2 linked regions of the Homo sapiens genome follow. The protein of the gene in region 2 interacts with the protein of the main gene of each other region in a biochemical or structural test. Each region holds a gene or a part of one and is shown on either strand. Other genes may lie near its edges. The genes, in order: RAPSN and KLHL8.

The links.
Region 1: of the proteins of KLHL8 (region 2) and RAPSN, one has a biochemical effect on the other in vitro, tested with the Homo sapiens proteins (one study listed by BioGRID).

What each region holds. Positions count from the first base shown.
Region 1 is NC_000011.10:47,444,595-47,454,156, forward strand, and holds the start of RAPSN (43 kDa receptor-associated protein of the synapse), read right to left. Parts: upstream 4,543-9,562; 5' UTR 4,371-4,542; coding exon 4,179-4,370; intron 3,557-4,178; coding exon 3,218-3,556; intron 2,844-3,217; exon of another isoform or gene 2,733-2,843; intron 1-2,732. UniProt on the Homo sapiens protein: Postsynaptic protein required for clustering of nicotinic acetylcholine receptors (nAChRs) at the neuromuscular junction. It may link the receptor to the underlying postsynaptic cytoskeleton, possibly by direct association with actin or spectrin.
Region 2 is NC_000004.12:87,167,870-87,177,100, forward strand, and holds part of KLHL8 (kelch-like protein 8), read right to left. Parts: intron 9,000-9,231; coding exon 8,888-8,999; intron 2,747-8,887; coding exon 2,578-2,746; intron 2,370-2,577; coding exon 2,210-2,369; intron 63-2,209; exon of another isoform or gene 1-62. UniProt on the Homo sapiens protein: Substrate-specific adapter of a BCR (BTB-CUL3-RBX1) E3 ubiquitin ligase complex required for The BCR(KLHL8) ubiquitin ligase complex mediates ubiquitination and degradation of RAPSN.

The sequences.
Region 1 (9,562 bases), on a different chromosome or scaffold from region 2:
ACACCTGTAATCCCAGCACTTTGGGAGGCCAAGATGGGCAGATCATGAAGTCAGGAGATCGAGACCATCCTGGCTAATATGGTGAAACCCCATCTCCACTAAAATACAAAAAAACTAGCTAGGTGTGGTGACAAGTGCCTGTGGTCCCAGCTACTTGGGAGGCTGAGGCAGGAGAATCACTTGAATCTGGGAGACAGAGGTTGCAGTGAGCCGAGATCGCGCCACTGCACTCCAGCCTGGGCAACAGAGCAAGACACTGTCTCAAAAAAAAAAAAAAAAAAAAAAGTAAATAAATGTCCCTAACTGTGTGTCATATTACTACAACCACACACACAAATAATTATTTTGGCCGGGCGCAGTGGCTTATGCCTGTAATCCCAGCACTTTGGGAGGCCAAGGCGGGTGGACTACAAGGTCAAGAGATCCAGACCATCCTGGCTAACATGGTGAAACCCCGTCTCTACTAGAAATACACACACAAAAAAAATTAGCGGGGCGTGGTGGCAGGCGCCTGTAGTCCCAGCTACTCGGGAGGCTGAGGCAGGAGAATGGCGTGAACCCGGGAGGCGGAGGGTGCAGTGACCGAGATCGTGCCACTGCACTCCAGCCTGGGTGACAGAGTAAGACTCCGTCTCTAAAAAAAAATATATATATATTATTTCAATGACTTTGGAACAAAAGTACTCAGTTTACCCATAGTGGGATACATTACAAAAACAAGGCTGGGCACAGTGGCTCACACCGGTAATCCCAGCACTTTGGGAGGCTGAAGCGGGTGGATCACCAGGTCAAGAGATTGAGACCATCCTGGCCAACATGGTGAAACCCCGTCTCTACTAAAAATACAGAAAATTAGCTGGGCATAGTGGCGTGTGCCGGTAGTCCCAGCTACTCGGGAGGCTGAGCCAGGAGAATCGCTTGAACCCGGGAGGCAGAAGTGGCAGTGAGCCGAGATCGAGCCACTGCACTCCAGCCTAGGCAACAGAGCGAGACTGTCTCAAAAAAAAAAAAAAAAAAAAAAGCCAAAAGAACAGCAAAGAAATCTTAAACTTCATTCAGTTGTCTTTATTTTCTAGAGTAATATTGGTATTGTCTTTTGGAATTATTTTACGTATTTTGTAGGGTAAAGCAAATATTTAATTATGTGGTTAGAAACTAAGATTTTTCATCTAAGAGAAAAGACAATCAAGTTTAAAATAAGTTAAGGGGAGCTCCTGAAACATTAGATTTGAATTGGAAATGTCAGTATAAACTTCCATTATTCTGATAACTGAAAAGATTTAGAAGCACGGACATCCCACTAGCAATGAACACCCCACAAGCCCACACTTGGGCTTTTTTTTTTTTTCTCTCACACAGGGTCTTGCTCTGTTGCCCAGGCTGGAATGCAGTGGAACACTCATGGCTCACTGCAGCCTCAAACTCCTGGGCTCAAGCGATCCTCCCGCCTCAGCCTCCTGAGTAGCTGAAACAATAGGTGTGAGCCACCATGTCTGGTTCATTTTTAAAGTTTGGTGCAGATGGGGTCTTGCTATGCGACTCAAGCTGCTCTCAAACTCCTGGGCTCAAGCAATCCTTCTGCTTGGCCTCTCAAAGTGCTCAGATTATAGGCATGAGCCTTGCCAAATTAAAAAAAAAAAAAAACTGTTTGTAGACGCTGGTCTGGAACTCCTGGTCTTGAGCGATCCTCACCCCTCAGCTTCTCAAAGTGCTGGGATTACAAGTGTGAGCCACCAGGCCTAGCTTACTTTTCTTCAGAATTAAAAAGGTTTTTAAAAACCCCTGTCCTGCCCCAGTCCTATCTCATCTCACTGAATGGCTCCCCCTTACATCTGCTTCCTAAAAACAAAGTCCTGGCTGTCATCCTTGGTGACTCGTTTCCTCCCATCCCACCTTGGATCCATCAGCATTTATCCACTCACTAACTCCAAGATTTATTAAGCATCTACTGGGGCCAGGCATTAAATCCCCCATGGACCAAGCACAGCACAGATACCTGAGGGGAAAGGGAACAAAAATACCCAGGGTTGGCCGGGTGCGGTGGCTCACGCCTGTAATCCCAGCACTTTGGGAGGCCAAGACGGGCGGATCCCTGAGGTCAGGAGTTCAAGACCAGCCTGGCCAACATGGTGAAACCCCATTTCTACTAAAAACACAAAAATTAGCCGGGCGTGGTGGTATACGCCTGTAGTCCCAGCTACTTGGGAGGCTGGGGCAGGAGAATCGCTTGAACCCAGGAGGCGGAGGTTGCAGTGAGCCGAGATGGCACCACTGCACTCCAGCCTGGGTGACAAGAGCAAAACTCCGCCCCTGCCCCCGCCAAAAAATACCCAGGATCAGAACCTGCTGTGGCTGATCCTATCAGTTCCTTCACAGTTGGCCCTCCTCCTCTCACCTCCCTACCTCCGCACACACCTGAGACACGCCTGGCAGCCATGCTGGCCTCTGTCCTTCCTGGAACATTCCAGGAAACATTCCAGGATGCTCCCCCAGGGTCCAGCTTGGCTTTAGGGGCTCGCCCATTTTTGCCTAGAATGCTCTCTCACCAGATTTTTGCATGGCACACCCTCTCTTCTTCAAGCCATCAAACATCACCTCTGCGAGGCCCTCCGACCACTATATTTGAAATTATGACACCCCCACGCCCAGTGCTGCCAGCCCTTTGCCCCGCTTCGCTTTCTCCTAACCACTTGACTTCCTGACTGTGTTGATCGTCTTTCTTCTCCAACTAGAATGCAACCCTCGTGAGGACGGGGACTTGGCTGTTTTTCTCACTGCTACACCCTGGGTCAACAGTCTTGGGATACAGTAGCTGGTCAATAAATATTTGATGACTGACTCCATACAACCCCACTGTAAGGTGAGTCCTATTCTCCTTCATTTTACAGATCTCTCCCAAGGTTCAGAGAGGATAGGTGACTTGCCCAAGACCACACAGCAAACATGGCAGTGCAGGCCGCTGGCCTGTCCTCACAGAGGAGCCTCCCATTATTCCTCCAGGAAGTCACACAGATCAAGGTTTGAATCCTGGCTCTGCCCTTGCTGGCTTCCTGGCCAAGTTGTTACCTTCCTGGATAAGCCTTTTTGCTCTCTGATTCTCACTCTCCTCAGCCCTCCCTAAAAGGAGGGCTGAATGAGGTAGTGCCACAGGGTGTGTGCCTCATGAGAGGGGAGCCCCAAAACCCTCCACTGCTGTCCCCCTGGGGTGCAGGCCCACCTTGACCTGGGCATAGAAGCTGCCCAGGCTGCAGCACACGCGGCACTCGAGCATGGCGTCATCATTGTTGTGGGCATAGCGCAGGGCCTTCTCGAAGCTCTCCAGGGCCTTCTGGAAGACGCTGAGGCCCAGGAAGGCATTGCCCATGCTCAGGCTGACCTGGCCTCCGAGCTGGGCACCTGCCCTGGTACCAGGCAGCCCAAGGCAGGTCTTGCAGTAGGAGATGGTCTTGTGAAACTCGCACAGCTTCTCGTTGCTGCGTGCCAGGTTCAGGTAGCTCTCCAGGAGGAAGTCGGCATCCTCCAGCTCCCGGGCCGTGTCGATCTGGACCACAGCGAACTGCACACAGCGACGGTGGGCAGGTGGTGCTCAGCCTGGACTCTGAGCCTTGGACCCCAGCCTGCACTGCAGGCTCAGACCTGGAGGCCCCACACCCACCCCCCAGCCTCACACCCAAAGCAGCAGATCCCAAAGCTTCTTTTCAGACCCAGAGCTTCTACCCGCCAGCCTCAGCTACCTTCCCTACACCCCAGCCTCACCTCCCAAGCTCAGGCTTGCAGCCTTCACCTTCTATCCCAAGCCTCAGATCTGGAGTCTCCACCACCCACCCACCCCCAGCCGCAACCCTGGAGCCCACACCCCGCCAGGCTCAGACACAGAACACCAGACAGGAAGGCTGAAACCTACAATGGGCTTGAGACCCACAAACCCTCGACCCTGAGGCTGGAGAACCTCAGTCTCAGAGACTCGGGCACCACAGTTCAAGGCCACAGGCCTGAATCTGATGCCAAGACTCAGTATCTAAGACCCAGGGCCTTAGATATAAATTCAGAGCCTCGGGCCCTGGCTGCCAGCCTGTGGGACACAGGGGAGCCCGAGGAGGCCGAGAGGGGACTGGGGAGCCTGGGAGACATCCGGCCCCAGCCTGACCCTCGAACGCCCCCAGGCCGGGTACACCCACCTTCAGCATCTCCTTGTAGCGGCCCATCTCCGAGTGGGCTGTGACCAGGCAGCCCAGCACGCGGAAGCGCCCCATGAGGTCCGAGCTCTTCTCCAGCACCTTTGTCCACACCTGCAATGCCTTCTCTGTCTGGTTGGACTGGTACAGCTGGAGCCCCTTCTCGATCTGCTGCTTGGTCTGGTCCTGCCCCATCCTCCCCAAGCCCTGTGTCCCACGTGGGGTGATCCCTGGTGGCTCCGTGCCTCTAGGCACTCATGGGGCAGGAATCACAGTGCCAGCTGCCCCCCGAAACGTGGGAACAAAAGCAGCGTCGGGTGGGAGCCGGAATGGGGCCTGGATGGAGAGCAGGCGCCACCCTGGGAACAAAGCTGGTTCAGCCCGTCTGCAGCTGTCGCTGCCAGTTGGGGCCACATGGCCTCTGAGGAATGTCAGCAGCAAGGTCACGTGGGCCTCTGCTGCACCCACCCGCGAGCTGGGACGTGGCTTCCCTGAGCATACAGGCACCTTGCCACCTGGGCACCCCCTTGGGCGTCCCTTAGGCACCTCTGACACTGACCCTGACCGCCCTGGCAGCACGGGCCCTCCCAGCAGCCTTGCCAAGGGGCCAGCTCCAGCAAGTGGGCAGGCCTTGGGCTAGAGGTGCTCGGGGGAAGGAGAGCGAGGCTGGACCTGCAGGTCCGGGGAAGCCAGGTGAGCGCCCAGCCCTGCTTCTTCCCCATCAAGACACCCCTGACCGCAGCATCCCCTGGCTCTGTTCCTGAAATTCACTGAGCACCGTGGGTCACTCATCCAGGCCCAGGCTGACACCATTCACCAACTCTCACCTTAGAGAGTCTGGGAAAGACCTCCAGCTGGTGAGAGGCCTGAGCTCTAGCCTGGCTTCCTTCGAACTCTCAGTGGGACCCTAGCCAAGTGACCTGGCACCGTGGACTGAAGAGAGGAATGGTACCTGGCTCACTGGACTGCTATGAGAACTCAATGACGAAAGAGTTGAGAAGGACTTAGGACAGTGCCCGGCACAGGAAACCCCGCATGTGCTGCAAGAGGCTATTTTGCTCCATGGCAAATCCCCACCCGGGCCAGAACCCAGCCCTTGAAGTTTCAATGTCTCACTTCCAATCCCAACCCCGGGCTGAAAGGGTCCTCATAATGAGATTTAACACCAGATACTGTGGAGAAGGGCAAGGTCTTATGTAGTATTGGGGCCCCCGCTAGCAGGCCAGCTCATCCAGCCCCCCTTTCTCCTCTCTCTGCATGCCAGCCTTCTTCCTGCCCCAGGGCAAAAGTTTATCCTTTCTGGCTGGGCAATTCAGTGGTTTTTAGTATATTCACAGAGATGCACATTAATTGCCACTAATTCCAGAACATTTTAACCACCCCAAAAAGGAGACGCACACCCATCAGCAGTTACACCACTCCATTCCCCACCTTGATATGACTGAATCATGTCCCCCCGCAACCAAACGCATATGTTTAAGTCCTAACACTCAGTATCTCATAAGGTGACTGTCTTTGGAGACAGGGTCTTTAAAGGGTGATTAAGGTAAAATGAAGTCACATTGTACCTCATCCAGTTAAGACTGGTATCCCCCCCCCCTTTTTTTTGAGACAGGGTCTCACTCTGTCACCTAGGCTGGAGTGCAGTGGTGCAGTCACAGCTCACTGCAACCTCTACCTCCTAGGCTCAAGTGACCCTCCCACCTCAGTCTCCTGGGTAGCTGAGACCACAGCTGTCTAGTTTTTGTAGAGATGGGTTTCACCATGTTGCCCAGGCTGGTCTTGAACTCCTGGAGGTGGAGGTTTCAGTGAGCCGTGATTGTGCCACTGCACTCCAGCCTGAGCACCAGAGCAAGACCTTGTCTCAAAAAATAAATAAACAATAAATTTTTATTTTTAAAAATTATTTTTGAGACGGAGTTTTGCTCTTGTTGCATAGGCTGGAGTGCAGTGGCACAATCTCAGCTCACTGAGACTTCTACCTCCCGGGTTCAAGCAATTCTCCTGCCTCAGCCTCCCAAGTAGCTGGGATGACAGGTGTATGCCACCACGCCTGGCTAAGTTTTTGTATTTAGTAGAGACGGGGTTTCACCATGTTGGTCAGGCTGGTCTTGAACTTCTGACCTCAGTTGATCCACCTGCCTCAGAGCCTCCCGAAGTATTGGGGTTATAGGCGTGAGCCACCATGCCTGACCACAATACTTTTTTTTTTTTTTGAGACACTTTCCCTCTGTCACCCAGGCTGGAGTGTGGTGGTGCCATCTTGGCTCACTGCAACCTTCACCTCCCAGGTTCAAGTGATTCTCCTGCCTCAGCCTCCTGAGTAGCTGGGATTACAGCTGCGCACCACCACACCTGGCTAATTTTTGTATTTTTAGTAGAGACGGGGTTTCACCATGTTGGTCAGGCTGGTCTGGAACTCCTGACTTCATGATCTGCCCACCTCTGCCTCCCAAAGTGTTGGGATTACAGGCGTGAGCCCCCGCACCTGGCCCACAATAAATGTTTAAAAAGGACACAGTCACACAGAAGAAGAGCACGTGAAGACACAGGGAGAAGATGGCTATCTACAAGCCCAGGAGCAAGGCCTTAGAATGAAACCAACTCTGCCAATTCCTTGATCTTGGACTTCTAGCGTCCAGAACTGTGAGAAAATAAATTTCTGTTATTTAAGCCACCTGGTGTCTATGGACCTGTCTATTGTGGACCCTTCACAGGAATGGAATCATACAATATGTGGTCATCTGTGACTGGCTTCTTTAACTTGGCATAATGTTTTCAAGATTCAACTATGTTTTCAACCGTATCAGAACTTCATTACTTATTGTGGTTGGTTAATACTCATTGTCTGGATATACATTTTGTTGATTCAGCAGTTAATAGGCATTTGGGTTGTTTCATTTTTGGCTACTATGAATAATGATGCTATAAAAATTCATGTACAAATTGGGCTGGGCACGGTGGCTCACGCCTGTAATCCCAGCACACTAGGAGGCTGAAGCAGGCAGATCACTTGAGCCCAGGAGTTGGAGACCAGCTTGGGAAACATAGCGAGACCCCATATCTACAAAAAATACAAAAAAAAAAAAAAATTAGCTGGGTGTGGTGGTGCACAGCTGTGGTCCCAGCTACTCGCGAGGCTGAGGCAGGAGAATCGCTTGAGCCTACAAGCTTGGACTGCAGTGAGCCGCAATCATGTCACTACACTCCAGCCTGGGTGACAGAGCGAGACCCTGTTTCAAAAAAATAAAAAATTCATGTACTAGGTTTTATGGGGACATGTTTTCATTTCTCTTAGGTATATGCTTGGAGCAGAAGTGTGAGTAATATGGCAACTGTTACATTCTGGTACCTGCCTACCTGTCTGCCCCAGGGCCTTTGCACCTCCTAATTCCTTCTCTGTTCACCACACCCACACTCTGCCTCGTAAGTCATAATTAGGATGAATCAGCATATTATCCTCTCATTGAATTACACTGCATTCTGATACAGGACTTATCTCTATAATTTTATTTTGAGACAGGGTCTCACTTTGTCGCCCAGGCTGGAGTGCAGTGGTACAATCTAGGCTCACTGAGGCCTCGACCTCCTGGGCTCAAGCCACCCTCCCACCTCAACCCTCGCAAGTAGCTGGCATTACAGGCAATGCCACCATGCCCAGCTAATTTTTATATTTTTAGTAGAGACGGGGTTTCACCATGTTGGCCAGGCTGGTTTTGAACTCCTGTGCTCAAGTGATCCGCTGGCCTGGGCATCCCAAAGTGCTGGGATTACAGGCGTGAGCCACCACGCCCAGCCTCTCTATAATTTTATATTAGTGAGGTTGTTTGCTGAATGTCTTTATTCTTCACTCAAATGAGGTCATATGGCTGGGCCCTAACCCAGGGCAGGACTTTGTCTCCTTCATTACTGACTGTATTCCCAGAGCAAGGCCCGGCACACTGTGGCCCCTCAATAAATGTCAAATATCGGTGAATGGGGAAGAAGCGGAGGAAAGACGGCTTCACCGGGAAATTCAGAGCAACTACACGGCCTGCTTCCTGAGAGCCCAACGGGTCAGAGGGGACGCTCTGGGGGTCAGAAGGCAAATGCCCCAGGCTCAACAGAGGCAGAGTGGGAGCAGGCTCTGGGACAGGTGGCTGGGCAAGGCCACCTGGACTCCCCAAAGGAGTGCTCCTAAGCCTGGGAAAGGGAGGGAGAGCTGGCTGGGGTCTTCTCTCATCTCAGGGAGGCCTGGGTTGATGCTGAGCTGCAGATGGGAGGGAAGCTGGGCCCACAGCGAAGGTGTGAAGGGCCAGCAGATTCTCCCCACTCCAAGGCCCAGACACTATTCACATTGAGTCTCTGGCAGGAAGGAATGGAGGAAGGGCGGCCTGCATCTACACCCCAACAGAGTTGGGGACCACAGCCTTCCTCTTTCCTGGGGAACTCAAATGACCTCAAAACTTGAAAACTTGATGGGATCAAGCTGTCCTTTCCCTGAGACAGGTCTTTGCTCATCTGACTTCAGTGATGGGAATATGCCCATACTCGCTTATTCTAGGTAGCAGAGTACCTTATGTTTCCTTGAAACATTTCATTTCTTCTTTATTATTATTTTTTTTTTTGAGATGGAGTTTTTCACTCTTGTCGCCCAGGCTGGAGTGCCCGTGGTGGTGAGAGGTGAAGCCAGCTGGACTTCCTGGGTGGAGTGGTGACTAGGAGAACTTTTCTGTAGCTAACTAGAGGTTTGTAAAATGCACCAATCAGTGCTCTGTAAAAACACACCAATCGGTGCTCCGTAGCTAGCTGGAGATTTGTAAAATGGACCAATCAGCACCCTGTAAAATGGACCAATCAGTGCTCTGTAAAATGGGCCAATCAGCAGGACATGGGTGGAGACAAATAAAGGAATAAAAGCTGCCTCCCCGACCAGCCCATCCCCACCCCAACAAGCCAGCAGCAGAAACCCGCTTAGGTTCCGTTCCACGCTGTGGGAGCTTTGTTCTTTTGCTCTCCACAATAAATCTTGCTGTTGCTCACTCTTTGGGTCTGCACCACCTTTAATAGCTGTAACACTCACCACAGAGGTTTACGGCTTCATTCTTGAAGTCAGCGGGACCACGAACCCACTAGAAGGAACCAACTGCGGACACAGTGGGATCTCGGCTCACTGCAACCTCTGCCTCCTGGGTTCAAGCAATTCTCCTGCCTCAGCCTCCCAAGAAGCTGGAATTACAGGCGAGCACCACTACACCTGGCTAAGTTTTGCAGTTTTAGTAGAGACGGGGTTCCACCATGTTGGCCAGGCTGGTCTCGAACTTTTGGCCTTAAGTGATCTGCCCGCCTCAGCCTCCCGTGAGCCACCATGCCCGGCCTCAAAAATTTCATTTCTGAGCACGTTTTCC
Region 2 (9,231 bases):
TAAAGCAGCCATGAACCAGGTTGCCCAGAAATGGCAGCTTTATATAGCCACACATAGCAAAGACTATCCTTTGGCCAAATGTCTCTACAACATGGCTTCAGCCTAAAATATGCTAACTTCTCAGAAGACAGATGAAGTCAAATGCTCACTTGGCTCTCTTTACCCCACACCCCGCCCCCCGCCTTACCTTTATGGTTAAAGGGGGAAGATATATACCCTTTAGGTAGAACCATAGTTTGATGCCTGCTGTTACTTGGTTTTGCCTAGTTAGACTTTCAACTACAAGGTATTTTAGGGGGTGTTTTTGTGTAGAAAGGCCCCCTTTTCCCAGCCTGGCAGGCATTCCAGTCTCTGCCAAGTACACTTATACTCCCTTGATCTTTCAAGGGGCCTTCAGGTCCTTCCTTGAGGGAACTATGAGGGTTTTGCAGGTTTCTAGAAATCTGGCCGTGAAATTAGGGCTCAATTTTCTGATTGTAGTAAAGGTGAAGACTCCTAAGGAACAGCGCTTGGTGTTGGCCTTAACAGACAGACAAGGGCTGAGGGATGTGAACTGAGTCTTGTTATTCTTTCGGCGTTTTGTGGAATAAGCAGTGAAATTTAGACAAGAAAGAATAGAAAAGAGAATTCTTCTTTAATGGGGGGAGGTGATTTTCTCCTAGGGTTATCCTGAGTTGGGGTTTTTAAGATAGCACAAACTGCTGCATGCTGTTTTTTATGGACTGAAATCAATTTATAATATTTTTTTCTGCAACACTGGAGATTTTTATTTTTTAAAAGATATATATATGTATATATATGTGTGTATATATGTGTGTATATATATACGTATATATATGTGTATATATATACGTATATATATGTGTGTATATATACGTGTATATATGTGTGTGTATATATATGTGTATATATATACGTATATATACACACATATATATACACACACATATATATATATCCTTCTTTTTTAAGACACAATCTTTATTGGGTCTGTACCTTCATCCTTGATCTTGTTAGCAATGCCTTTTTTTGCTGTTAGGTGGGTTAAAGCGTTAAACCTGCATGGGGTTTGGTAATAAAAGATTGTTAAAGTAAAAAAAAAAAAAAAAGCAATATAAACATTGACATGACCTTTATTTATATGAAATACCTAGGCCAGGTGTGGTGGCTCATGCCTGTAATCCCAGCACTTTGGGAGGCCAAGGCAGGAAGATCACTTGAGGTCAGGAGTTCAAGATCAGCCTGGCAAACACGATGAAACCCTGTCTTTACTAAAAATACAAAAATTAGCTGGGCACGGTAGCACACACCTGTAATCCCAGTTACTCAGAAGGCTGAGGCAGGAGAATTGCTTGAACATGTGTGGCAGAGGTTGCAGTGAGCTGAGATCATACCACTGCACTCCAGCCTGGGTGACAGAGCAAAACTCTATCTCAAAAATAAATAAATAAATACCTACTGGCTTACTTGAAGTATTCAACATAATTTCCCTTGAAATGAGGTTGAGAAAAACAAATCTGAGACCTTTTAAAATTTATTGTAGCAAAGCACATTCAATCTGTGTCCTTCCATTTAAAAACATATACCTTATTTAAATGTAATCCCCTTCTTTAAATAAATTTGTTACTCTTAGAAAAATAAGGCTGTACATGTTTTAAACATGAAAGATGAAGATTTAAACAAAAATTATGAATGTGACCTTAACAATTCAGCTAGGCATGATGGCCCATGCCTGTAATCCCAGCACTCTGGGAGGGCAAGGCAGGAGGATCACCTAAGGCCAGTTGTTCATGACCAGCCTGGGCAACACAGCAAGAACCCATCTCTACAAAAAACAGAAAAAAACTGGCTGGGTGTGATAGCCTGGGCCTCTAGTCCTAGCTACTTGAGAGGCTTGAGGCAGGAGGATCATGTGAGCCCAGGAGTTCAAGGCTGCAGTGAGCTACGATTGTGCCACCGCACTTCAGCCTGGGCAACAGAAAGACACTGTCTCCCTCTGAAAAAAAAAAAAACAAAGAATTCAAAAGCATCAGACTGAACATGTACAATTCTCTGTTAATTATAAACAAAATTTTGTAAGAAAGAATTCAAAAGCACATTTCAGGACCGATTCTACTTAAGGCTAAATGCAATGTAATTTTTGTTACTCTGTTATATGACACTTGTCATTGTATATACTGATATATTAGAGAAATACCCATTTACTCACCAACTACGTATAAGCAACCATGAAGCTTGCTAACTCCATTGCCTGCTCTTCGCTGACCCATTTCTTTAACTTCTATCCACTTATCCAGATGTGGATCATATCTCTCCACGCTAGATAAAGAAGCCATTCCATCATTGCCACCTACTGCATAAACATGGTTCTAAATGAAGAGAGTCAAACAAAACACATTAGATTTCGAATTTATTTATATATTGTTTTAATGGTAAATTAGAATGTACAAGGCAGTATTTCAGGAAATAATATGATATATAATATCTTCATACTGGTGATGATATATTGGACCTTTCCTTATTTTGGTTATGAATGTAATGCAATGTAATTTAATGACAAGTTGCCATATAACTTACTACTAGAGCAACAGAGCCAACTCCTCCACGGGGAGTATTCATTGGTGCCACTGTACTCCACTGATCAGATTCTATGTCATATCTCTCCACATCATTGAAGCAAGTATTGTCATCTAACCCTCCAATTGCATAAATTGGGCCTCCTAAGGAAGCCAAGGCAATTCCTCGCCTGCAAAGACAATAAAACATACTTTAGCAAATGAGTTTGTTTCCAGGAAAAAAAGTCATATAAAAAATTGTGCTAATGCAAATCATTTATCATGTTAACCTTCAAACAGTATAGTTTGTTTCCATTATTTTTAGATCTATCAAAGCTTTTGACTAGATGGCTACAGAATTGCCAAACTGTGCAACTCTATGTGAATACTGCCCCCTGAAGTTGTACAGTGCATAGCCTACACAGGCTACTTTAAACTCAAAACAATAAAATATAACCCAACAAAATAGTATAAAAGAGTTCAAAATATTCAATTAGTGCACACACAGCGGCATAACTGAGAGGTTAATGAGTTGACAGAGAAGTTCTGCAGCGGAGGTCAGAAGCCAATCTCACTTACAAATCCATGCAATTACAGAGCTCATTTTGTTGCAGGGTTTCATTATACCACACAAAAGAGTATTAAATTTTATATTACAAGTTTTATGTCACGTTGCTTTATTTCTGAAGCGTATTTATTTCTCTCTAAAAGTAAGAGACTTAGCCCATGTTAAAAGCTGATTTAACAGTGATCAAAAAAAAAACTCAATTTCTTAAAAAACACACTGCACCAATCAAAAGTTGAACTATTATCAAACTATTATTTTGTCACTAGCTTGGATAATTTATAAACCTCTACTATCTTGTGTCTCATCTGAGACATAGATGGATATTAATGAGTTAATACATGTAAAGCACTAAGAACAATGTCTGGCCCATATTTAGTTCTATGAAGTATTAGCTTTTATTATTATTGGAGAAAGCAGCTGCTTCACTGAGATTCTAACTCTAAATTTACCAGAGAGTATCCAACAAAAGAATTCTTAAGGATAATGTTATCATTCACTTTCAAGCTCCTCAACCTCTTTTCTCTTGGGTATAAAGCTATGACTTACCAAATACTGTGCTGATAAAAATGTTCAGGTGTGTGAGAACAAGTACATGTGTTCTCTAGAATGTAACGATGTTAGGTCAGGGAAATAAAGTAAGTATGCCTCATAATTGTCCCTCCCCTTAAAGGACAAAAGCAGACAACATCATTGGCTTATTTCCTACTCCTCAAAACTCTCTTGGTTTTCATAACATCATACGTTTTAGTCCACTCCTACGTCTCTGGCTAGTGCTTTTCAGCTTCATCAGTGCCTTCTTTACTCCATCATTAAATTATAAAGTTCCCTAAGGGTCACTCTACACTTTCTCTCCCTAAGCATATCCCATTCTTTCCACAGATTTGTGATAATTCAAATATATATTTTCAGACATATACCCAATTTCTACCTCAAATATGTCTTGCTGGCTCTTCAACCTTAACTTTAATCTGAAATGAAACTCACTGCCCACCTCGCTGTGGTAGGCAGAATTTTAAGATACTCCTCATCCCCCATGACCTTCATCCCCTGGTGTTACTCTCATGACTATGCTACATTATATGGCAAAAGGGAGGTGACCTTGGCGGGCCTAATCTAATCAAACAAACCTTCAAAAGCAGAGAGGTTTCTCCAGCTGATTGTCAGAAATTCAAAAAACCAAGTGAATGCAGTGTGCCATTGCTTGTTTGAAGGTGGGGGGGAACATGTGGGAAGGATCTGGCAGTGACTTGTAGCCAACAGCCAATAAAAATGAGAAACAGTCCTATAGCCACAAGGAACTGAATTCTATCAATAACCTAAATGGCCCTGGAAGTGGCTTCTTCCCCAGTGCCTCCAGACAAAAGCCTAGCCCAATCTCTTGATTCTGGCCTTGTGGGACCCTAAGTAGAAAGCCTAGCAAAACCTGCATGACTTTTGAACTGTGAGCTAATAAATGGGTGCTATTTTAAGCTGCTAAATTGGGGGCAATTTGTTACATGGACATAGAAAATTAATACAACCCCATCACAAAACAAACAAAAATTTTATCCCATTCACCATGTTGTTTTCCTAATTCAGAAATCATACCATTATCCATCCAGTTGCTTAAGGCAGAAACCGAAGAATCATCTTTGCCTCTACCTAACTGTTCTTTCTAATTATCATAAAGTGTTTTTGACCATACACCTCTGAACTATCTTTCAAATATGTCCTCTTTTCTCTATCTCAATTTCTATCAGTATAGTCTAAGCCACCATTATTTCTTTACATCAAGGGATGAAGAATTACAATAACCCTTTTTGGTCTGTCAGACTGTTTTCACTCTGGTCATCCTCAAATCCCTTCTCCATTTTGAATGCAGAAGTTCTCTGAAAAGAGAAATCTGATCCTACAATTCCCCTATTATTTAAATAAAAATATAAAATGTATATTTACTATACATGCATATTAAATATATATGTTTAATTCAAAGCCCATCAGATAAAATATCCTTGGCAAACTTGAAAGGCCTTCAACCTTTACTTACTCTTTCTGCCTCATTTCTAGACACTCTTCCCCTTAATCTTCCAACTACATTGGACCACTTTCATGCTCTTTGCTCTCTTTCATCGCCTGGTTTTTGAAGGCTCTTCATCTCCCTCCACTTACCACTCTTACCCCACCTATAATAACTTAATCAGGCTAAATTCTGCAGTTCCTTCAGATCATAATAAATGGGACTTCATTAAGATGTTCTCCACTCCTCAAGCACCCTTTACTCACCCCATGCTAATATTATTGCCCTTATGTCATTATTTGTTATCTTCTCTTCTACAATGTAAGCTATACAGAGGCAGAGACACTGGCTATGTTTTCTACTGCTGGTAGCAAAAAACAAAGTTGTATCTTTACCACTTGGTGTGTCTTGTGGTGGGCATTTAAAACTTTTTTTTGAATAAATAAGTGAACCTTTAGACATGCTGTCAGGATGATGGGTTTCAACAGACTCATAGCTTAAACAAACATCGGTGTCCATTTCAGTGGAAAGATGAAATAAAAAAATAAAGATAACCAGATATTTCACATGTGAAAATGTATTGAAATGCCAAAAAGATGATTTGGGGCTATATAAGTTATAAACAAATAATATGACAAAATAATTGTAGCTCTATTATTTTTCACACAGATTGTAAATGCTCGGGGCATATTTTAAAAGATTAAAGAAATTCAATTGCTATTTTGCTAGAGAAGTTTCATTCAATCTTTGGCTAAAAACCAACATAGTAACAGGGATATAAAGATTAAAAAAGTACTTTGGGATTTTATCTCCCATTTTAATCCATGCAGTTATCACATAGTGTAAATCACTCCCTATTAAAGTATTAAAATGTCATTTGTAGACAGTGGGAGATAACAGTTTAAGACTAGCTTTTTTTTTTTCTAGGATTCTTTTTCATGAGGGGAAAAAAAGCTTAAAATGTCTTCACATTTTTTTTTAATCTTTCATATTTTAACACAAGAAGCAAAAACCAGTTGAAAATATTATTAATCAAAAATAGAAAATTAGAGGCAACATATCCCCATGTGTGGTTTAGTTTTTAATTGCTCATTTTGATAACAAGTCATTTTTGCAGAATGGTGCTAATTTGCCAACCATATAAGCCACAATGTCTCAGGTATGGTTTTACTAGTTCAGGTTTGTTTCTTTTAATTAAACTGTGGGTGATACATTTATATATATTAAGGTCAGTATCATTATATATCATATATATGTGTGTATGTGTGTGTGTATATATATATATCACCTGCAAGTTTTTTTTTTTTGAGACGGAATTTTGCTCTTGTCATCCAGACTGGAGTGCAATGGCGCAATCTCGGCTCACTGCAACCTCCACTTCCTGGGTTCAAGCGATTCTCATGCCTTAGCCTCCGCAGCAGCTGGGATTACAGGCACCCGCCACCACGCCCAGCTAATTTTTGTATTTTTAGTAGAGACGGTGTTTTGCCATGTTGGCCAGGCTGGTCTCAAACTCCTGACCTCAGGTGATCCGCCCATCTTGGCCTCCCAAAGTGCTGGGATTACAGGCATGAGCCACCATGCCCGGCCCACCTGCAGTTTTATTAAAAGAAACTCTTCAGCAATATTTTCAATATTTACTAAGATAGCCCTCTTCTCTCTTCTCGCATTATATTTTCACTCTGACACAGAGACAGAATTATTCTAGTATCTAGTTTTATACAAATTATTAAGCTCAGTCTTTGAAATCCTCACGCTATTAACAGAACAATAAAGTTGAAAAAAAATAGGCAATAAAATTTAATCTCCCATTTGGTGCAAAATATATGTGATCTTTCTGACAATACAATTCCAATCACTAGGAGGAATTACAGTATGCTTCATTGCTACTATACTGAATCATAAACAAATATTTATTCCTTCCTACTAAATCAACATACACTCTTAAAATATCTAGTAACTCCTGTAAGTTTTCTTGTCTCCAGATCACAACGCTTCAACTATTTTTTGTAGATAACATGGTTTTCAGTTGTATTACTAACCTGCTAGTTTTTTCTTACATGCATTCCAGATTATCATTCTCACATTTATTACAATCCATTTTTGTGCATTTTCTATAGATCTTATTTTCAAATTATAAACATGTTACTGTACTAACAAGTTATGTTCATTATAAAACATCCACCCAAAATAAATTTTTAAAAATGTACAGAGAGTCTAATCTTTTATTCCCATACCCCAACTGGTGTTATATACCCTACTTCAACAATACATCTATAGATACGGAGAGATCAGTGTCAAGAACAATACAACTATAACTCCCTTAATCTAAGGCTTCACTTCTTTTAATGTAGGCAACTGTATTATATTCACTTTTTTCCTTTCCTTTTTTTTAAGAGCTGTGTTTCATAATGGTTCAGGTACTTTTCTCCATATGAAACAATCAAAAACCTGATTTCCCACCATGTTATGTTGTACTCGTGGGATTGAGTTTTTAAAATACCTAAGGCAGGTTTTAACCTATAACTCTAATTTTAACATTTTTTAGGTTTTTGTCTAGAGTATATGTGGTCTACTCCGTCTTTGGAATCCTGATTTGGTCACATGCCTTAGTGATCTTTCCACCTTAGGATATCTAAAAAGCTGGTATTCAAGTCATTAATGAAAGTGTCAAACAGGTTAGAGTACTAAGTATGTTACTAAAAATCTTCCCTTTAGACTGATACATTAATCAGCATATATTCCAGTTTATGTTGATGAGAATATAAATATTAGAACATAAATATGTAAATGAGAACATAAATATGTAGGTGAGAACTTAAAATATTACTGTTCATCAGGATAAAAATCAATGAAGAAAAGAGAAATTGAGGACTATTTTCTTAACATGATAAAAATATAGATACCTTAGTCCTAAAGTCAGTATCTTATTTAATAGCAAAACACTAGATACTTTTCTAATAAGATCAGGAACAAGACAAAAACACCTACTATCTCTGCCATTATTCACCTGTATTAGATTATTAGGCAATACAATTAGACAAGAAAAATCAGTAAGAAGCATAAGGATGTTTGGGAAAATTGACTCAAAAAGTCTACAGATTAATTAATACTACTGTTCAATGCTAATTTCAGTAACTGCTATGGCTGTGTAACATGTTAACATTATGGGAAGCCAGGTGCAGGGTAGGTGGCAAGGTTTTGCCATCTCAGCACTGGCATTTGGCATTATCTTTGCCACTGGCACTTGGGATTATCTTTGCCACTGGCATTTGGACTAGAAGATTCTTTGCTGTGCATTATAGAATCTTTAGCATCATTTCTGACTTCTTCCCATAGATGCTAGCAGCAATTTTCCCATCCCCAAGCTGTGACAACCAAAAATGTCTTCAGACACTGCCAAGTGTCCCATAGAGGGGACAAAATCATCCTCAGTTGAGAACCACTGGTACACAGAAACTTTAATATTTTTGCAACTTCTCTGAATAAACTAAAATTATCTCAAAATAAAATGTTTAAAAAAATCAATGCTCATGTATAAGTGAAAACTGTGACTACCATATGGTACTCTAAAACATGACTGCATTTTTAATTCTTAAAAAAAATAAAAGGTGTTAACAAAGTATCACTTTGGACATGCTAACAAAATGTGTTTGAGAAGGTATTTAAAGTTTCTAAAGTAGAAAAAAAAGTTTAAAATAAGGCCTTTAAATTTTAAGAAACTTTATTTCCACCATCAGTTCAAAATAACTTTCCATGCTGATCTACCTCTTTGTGTTCATTGATGCCTTCATCATCCATTTATTAGTGAGAGGATCAAACATCTCCATACTCCCTAAATGTTCATTTCCATCATGTCCACCTACTGCATACACTTTACCTGTCAAATAGAGAAGTATTTTCATTTGACTCCAAACAAATAAATTCATATCATTAATGTTACATATATAAACATTATATAATTAAAATATCACCATAAGTTAATTTTCAATAATTGCTGTTCTGTTCAACATTATGATCAATGTCATTTCAGTAGTTGAATGAAAAATCAATGTAAGCTTGCACTAAACATGCTGTTCTACATGAAGTTATTTATTAGTAAATGCTCTAAT